2 separate regions of the Homo sapiens genome follow, and region 1 is linked to region 2. The links come from fine-mapping of genetic effects on gene expression. A gene starts in region 2. The other region holds a variant in brackets. All regions are shown on one strand. Distances are between the middles of the regions. Region 1 overlaps LOC105376148 (a long non-coding RNA gene). Region 2 holds the start of ROR2 (receptor tyrosine kinase like orphan receptor 2).

Region 1 (2,905 bases), 29 kb after region 2:
CCTCAGCCTCCCGAGTAGCTGGGACTACATGTGCCCGCTACCAGGCCCAGCTAATTTTTTTGTATTTTTCAGCAGAGACAGGGTTTCACCATGTTGGCCAGGCTCGTCTTGAACTCCTGACCTCAGGTGATGCTCCCGCCTCAGCCTCCCACAGTGCTGGGATTACAGGCATGAGCCACCCCACCTGCCGGTCCCCTAGTCTTAGACCCTTGTGTGATGCCAGCCAGCAGCGTCGTCTTGCCATGCACAATCTTGCACCTCCCAGGACTGGTACCCATGCTGGGATCGGAGGTCCACCACCTCTCAGACACAAAGCCTGGCAGCGCTGGGACTGCTGTTATCCGCATCCTCCCTCAGAGCCAGAAACTCATTTATGTTCTCAAATACTGGATCAGTTATCTATTTCTATTAAACAAAGCATCCCAAAATGGAGTGGCCTATAATAGCAATGATTATTTATTTTTCATCATTCTGTGGGTTGGCTGGGTGGGTCCTCTGCCGGTTTCTCCTGGCTCACCCACAAGATCACATTTAGCTAGAGGGGCAGCTGGGCAAGTACGTACCCAACAGACTCACTCGCAGCTTCTAGCTCTGGGGTGGGACATCTGAGTCCTTCTCCATCCAACACAGGCTAGATATGGTGGTTTCTTGGTTCCACCAGGGAGAGAGCAAGAACTGCAAAGCCTCTTAACCCTGGAGCCAGCACTCTGTCCCTTCTGCCACCTTCTGTTGGCAAAAGCAAATTGCATGGCCAGCCCAAATTCATGGGATGGAGAAATAGACTCCGTATCTCAAAAGGGAGAGCCCACTGCCACTTGTCAGAGGAGCCTAGACTCAAGGAGATATGATTCCTCGTGGACCATGGCTGACAGTCTCCATAAATACCAAGAGCAGATCCCATCCTCTCTAGCAAAAAATGAGACTTTATTGCCTTGACCGAGTCCTGACCCTCAAAGCTCACTTGAAGGTAGCTGCTAAGTCACAGTGTCAGGATCCCTCACTGGAAGACTAAATGCATGCTTTCACTGCCTGTGCGTCTTTGCTCCATCCAGAAATGTGATGACTCATTCTTGGAGCATGAAGGTTTGTTGTGGGAAGTGTGCAGAAATGTTTTTCTTTACTTCCAGAATGACAAGCCAGGGGGAAAAAATGGAACAAATTTTTTTTTT[A/T]AAAAGTAATTTATTTGGAAACTGTGTTAAATTCAAAACAAGCTACCATTGGAAAGTCTGAGACCTACCTTTTTGGTAGTCTTTAAATGTAACACAGCAGTCTGGGCGCAGTGGCTCATGCCTATAATCCCAGCACTTTGGGAGGCCAAGGCAGGCAGATCACCTGAGGTCAGGAGTTTGAGACCAGCCTGGCCAACATAGTGAAACTCTGTCTCTACTAAAAATACAAAAATGAGCCGGTTGTGGTGGTAGGTACCTGTAATCCCAGCTACTCGGGCAGCTGAGGCAGGAGAATCGCTTCAACCCAGGAGACGAAGGTTGCAGTGAGCTGAGATTACGCCATTGCACTCCAGCCTGGGGACAAGAGCAAGACTTCATCTCAAAAAAAAAAAAAAAAAAAAAAAAAAAGTAACACAGCTAACCATCGGTCTTTATAGAGAATTTGGAGCATGGATCCTCAGGGCCAATCGGCTGGTTAAAGACTCACACACTGGAAGCAACCCAAGTATCTATCAGTGAATGAAGGGATAAGCAACATGTGATCTATCCATGCCCTGGAACATTGTTCAGCCTTAAAAGAAGAGAACTCTGACACACGCTACAACACGGAGGAACCTTGAGGACATCATGCTGAGTGAAGTAAGACAGTCATGAAAGGACAAATACTGTATGATTTTACTCATATGAGGTACTCAGACAAAATCATAGAGACAGAAAGTAGACTGATGGTTTCCAGAGGCTGGAGGAAGGGGACTGGGAGTTGGTGATTAATGGGAATGGAGTTTCCATTTTACAAGACAAAGAGTCTGGAGATCAATGGTGGTGATGGTTGCACAACAATGTGAATATTCGTCTTTTTTGGGGGTGGGGGCGGGCAGAGTCTCGCTCTGTCACCCAGGCTAGAGTGCAGTGGCATGATCTCGGCTCACTGCAAGCTCTGCCTTCTGGGTTCATGCCATTCTCCTGCCTCAGCCTCCCCAGTAGCTGGGACTACAGGCGCCCGCCACCACGCCCGGCTAATTTTTTGCATTATTTTTTTGGTAGAGATGGGGTTTCACTGTGCTAGCCAGGATGGACTCGATCCCCTGACCTCGTGATCTGCCTGCCTCGGCCTACAATGCGAATATTCTTAATACTACTGAGCTGTTCATTTAAAAATGGTTAAGATGTTTTGAAGATCCTTTTAAACCAATGTCTCAACTCACCTGGGCTGTTTTACCCCAAGGGTTCAGGGATAGCCCCCATCTATTTGGCCAGGCATTAGCCCAAGACTTGAGCCAGTTCTCATACATGGACACTCTTGTCCTTTGATACGTGGATGATTTACTTTTAGCCGCCTGTTCAGAAACCTGTACCATCAAGTCACCCAAGCGCTCTTAAATTTCCTTGCTGCCTGTGGCTACAAGATTTCCAAACGGAAGGCTCAGCTCTGCTCACAGCAGGTTAAATACTTAGGGCTAAAATTATCCAAAGGCACCAGGGCCCTCAGTGAGGAATGTATCCAGCCTATCATTGTTTGAATGGCTCTTCGGAATCTATGTGCTTCCTCTCATTCTTAGTGCCCCCTATGACCATCTACACTGAACAAGATTTATACAAGTATGTCATACCTAAGCCCCACAACAAAAGAGTACCCATTCTTCCTTTTGTTATCGGAGCAGGAGTACTAGGTGGACTAGGTACTGGCATTGGCAGTATTACAACCTCTACTCAGTTCTACTACAAACTATCTCAAG
Region 2 (2,905 bases):
CTAGGCAGGTCCCAAGCTGCACTTCCGAACCTCCCCGCCGTTCCTCTGCGCCCCGGATCCAAGCAGCCGAAACCGCGCAGGGACTCGGGGGAAGTGGGGCCCCGGGAGGAAACCCACCTAGGAGCCGGGCCCCGCCCCTCCCGCCGCCAGCCTCCTACAGGTCCCGGGGGTCCCCCCGGCGCGGCCAGAAGGCGGCCGCGCCCCAGCCGCTCAGGGACCCGCGATCCCAGTCACAAACCATTTCAATCCAGATCACACACCACTTCGGCCACCCCAGAGCGGTGGGGGAGAGGAGGTTTCAGGGACCAACAAAAGGGATGCCAAAGAGCCCGTTTCCATCAAGCGGCCCGCGGGCTGGGAAAGTCAGGACCCGGGAGCCGCCGGCGCCCCCACCCCCGCCGCAAGAGCCGCTTCTCCGGGGCCACGTCCACCCCAGGATTCTGCCAGGCATCAGGCCGCCCTGGGGGTGGGGGGACGCTCCGAGACAGACGGGGGACACTCGGGGCCGTGTGCCCTTGAAGGAGGAAGACCTCGGGGAGGAAGCCCGGGTCCTGGGACCCTCGGGGCACATCTGCGGACTCGGGTCCCGGGCCCAGGGCGGGTACTCACATTCACACTCGCACTCCCACTCGCGACCCTCGGGAAGCGCCACCGAGAGGCTCCCAGCCGCCGCCGCCCGCCCCCAGACTCTGGAAACACTTAGGCGTCCCCAGAGCGCGGCTTATTGTAACCAGCCCGAGGGGGTCCGGGGTGCGGGCCGGGAGCGGCGTCGGGCGAGATGCGAATGGCCCTGCCTGGCGCCCCTCGTTCAGGAGCATGGGCGCCGGCGCAGCGGCCGGGAGCATAGTGGCGGCGGAAGGGCTGGCCAAGCGAGCCGTGAGCTACCGTCTGCGCACAAGCCGGAACGCCAGATCCTACCTGAAGTCCGGGACACTGAGAGCAGAAGCGCGGCGGCCGCCCAGACGGCCGGGATGCACAGCAGCGGCCGCCGCGGGAGCGCCGAGCCCCGGGCCATGCCGCAGGCAGTGGGGGCCGGGAAGCCCTCAGAGCTTCGGGCCGGGGCGCGGGGTCGGGCGCCACCACCCCTTTCTACGATGCGTCCGCTCCTCCTTCTCCCTGGCGCTTCGCAAACGGGTCCACTTCGAGGACCTCGTCGTCGTCCTCTTCTCCGGCCCGGATGCGCCGCTCGGCTCCGGCCACGGCAAGGGCTGGCTGGGGAGGTTCCTTGGCGCGGGCTGGGGCGTCCCGCCGGCCGCCAGGACGAGCGCGGGGGGCGGACCGCGGGCGAGCGCGCAGGAGGCAGGGTCCCCGCTCGCCCGCCCCGATGGGCAGAGCGAGGCTTGCGCCGGCGCCCCCTGCCGGGGGAACGCGCGGGCGGCGGGCGGGACCCAAGGAGCTGGGGCTGCAGCTGGGGCCCCGGACCTGCCTCCTGCGCCCGCCCTCGGGCCTGCGCCTCGGAACGCTTGAACACAAAGGTGGCGCCTTGGGGGCGTCAGCCGGAGTTCGGCGGGTCTGCCCACGCAGGAGAGGCGCCCAGAGCGGGTGCCCCCGACTTTCGGGGGCGACACACCCGGGGATCTAGGTCACAAATCAGTAACTCCAGGCTGCACTGCGCACCGGGACAAATCTGAGAGCCACCCAGCCCCAGACACCAGCGGTGAGGCAGGAAGAGGAGAAGCGAAAGTTGCAAAAGGAAATGTTCAGGAAAACAAACAGGCCGCCTTGGCACCGGCGCCCTCCCAGGTCGGTGGGGACAAGCGCGTCCCCCGAAATGCTCAAAACTGCCAGGGGTCGAGCTGCGTGGAGGGAGCCCTCGGGAGCGCGATGCTATCCGAAGCCACCGCGGCTTTTGGTTTACTGTTAAAAGCAAATTGTATAATTTTACCCATTAAAGGCAGAACACTATTTGTTCTCTGCAGAGGCCCAGAATGTGCAGAATTTGCTTCACTTATTAGAGACATTTTGAACGGAATTCAAATAGCATGTTTTCTTGCTTATTCTTGGTTTTGCTCAGCACATGCAAATGTCTTTGTTTTTCCTCTTAGAGGAAGGAATTGGATTCTCCAGCATCTCAGTTGCTTGTTCCATGAGATTGATCTTTTAACTGATTATCCAGCAGTTTGTTTGGTGTTTTTGCTGGAGTACCAAGCTCTGTTAATTGGAGGGCATTAGGGAGAGCCCTGGCCTTGGGTGCCAGACGTGAGGCCTCAGACGTGGCCAGAAATAAAAACTCTCTTGCTATGGTCTGCGGACAAAATGACTAAGCCAGCTCTAGCTTGTTACCTCTGTTAAAAGTATTTAGGCGTCCGGCTATCTCTACCCAATTTGTGTAGGGAAATATCTCACGCAGTTCTCATTCCCAGGAGCTGCTGTAAATCCAGTAGGAGAATGGGAGAAGATCCTAGCCCCTCCTCAACTGGATGGCAAAATTATTACCAAACTTCTTAGACGGGCTCAGGCTGTTCCTCTGCCCAGGCTGGTGCGGGTCTGAACGGGGGGGCTGCTCTCCCCAGTGGTTAGAGGACTGCCAGGGGTTTATCTTTGGGGTTTTCCTCCCTTTAGCTTCCCTTAGAATCCTTAAGGATGCTTTTAGAGTAATGTTTTAAGAGTAGGTGCTGAAGCACTTAGTTCCACACCCCTCTCTTCTGGATCTAGGGAAAACCCAACAGGGGCTGCAGAGAAGGGTCTTGAACCTGCCCTGGAAAACCCCTCCCTCAGCAATGCTGTGTCCTTTCCGTGGTGCTGTGCAGCTCGGAGAAGGTGGTCCCAGCACCTTTGCTTTCCACTTCACACAGCGTGAGCATGTGGCTCCAGAACCATTTCATCAGCAGCCCTGCCATTTATTTTTGTGTGACCTTCAGGAAAATGACCTCATCATGCCCCCATCTGTGTGTTATTTTCACAT

The links.
Region 1: its variant is fine-mapped to the expression of ROR2 in sigmoid colon (GTEx, PIP above 0.99).

The regions. Positions count from the first base shown.
Region 1 is chr9:91,978,220-91,981,124 of GRCh38, forward strand. The region is part of intron 1 of LOC105376148 (a long non-coding RNA gene); the gene reads right to left. Among named protein-coding and RNA genes, the nearest start is that of ROR2, 29 kb to the left of the region's middle. The variant A/T (reference allele first, on the strand shown) is at 1,170.
Region 2 is chr9:91,948,949-91,951,853 of GRCh38, forward strand. ROR2 (receptor tyrosine kinase like orphan receptor 2) reads right to left here and starts at 1,280. Exons shown (of 9, transcript NM_004560.4): 1 at 919-1,280. The coding sequence starts at 1,015. RefSeq lists enhancers at 71-572, 573-1,072 and silencers at 1,266-1,445, 1,559-1,853.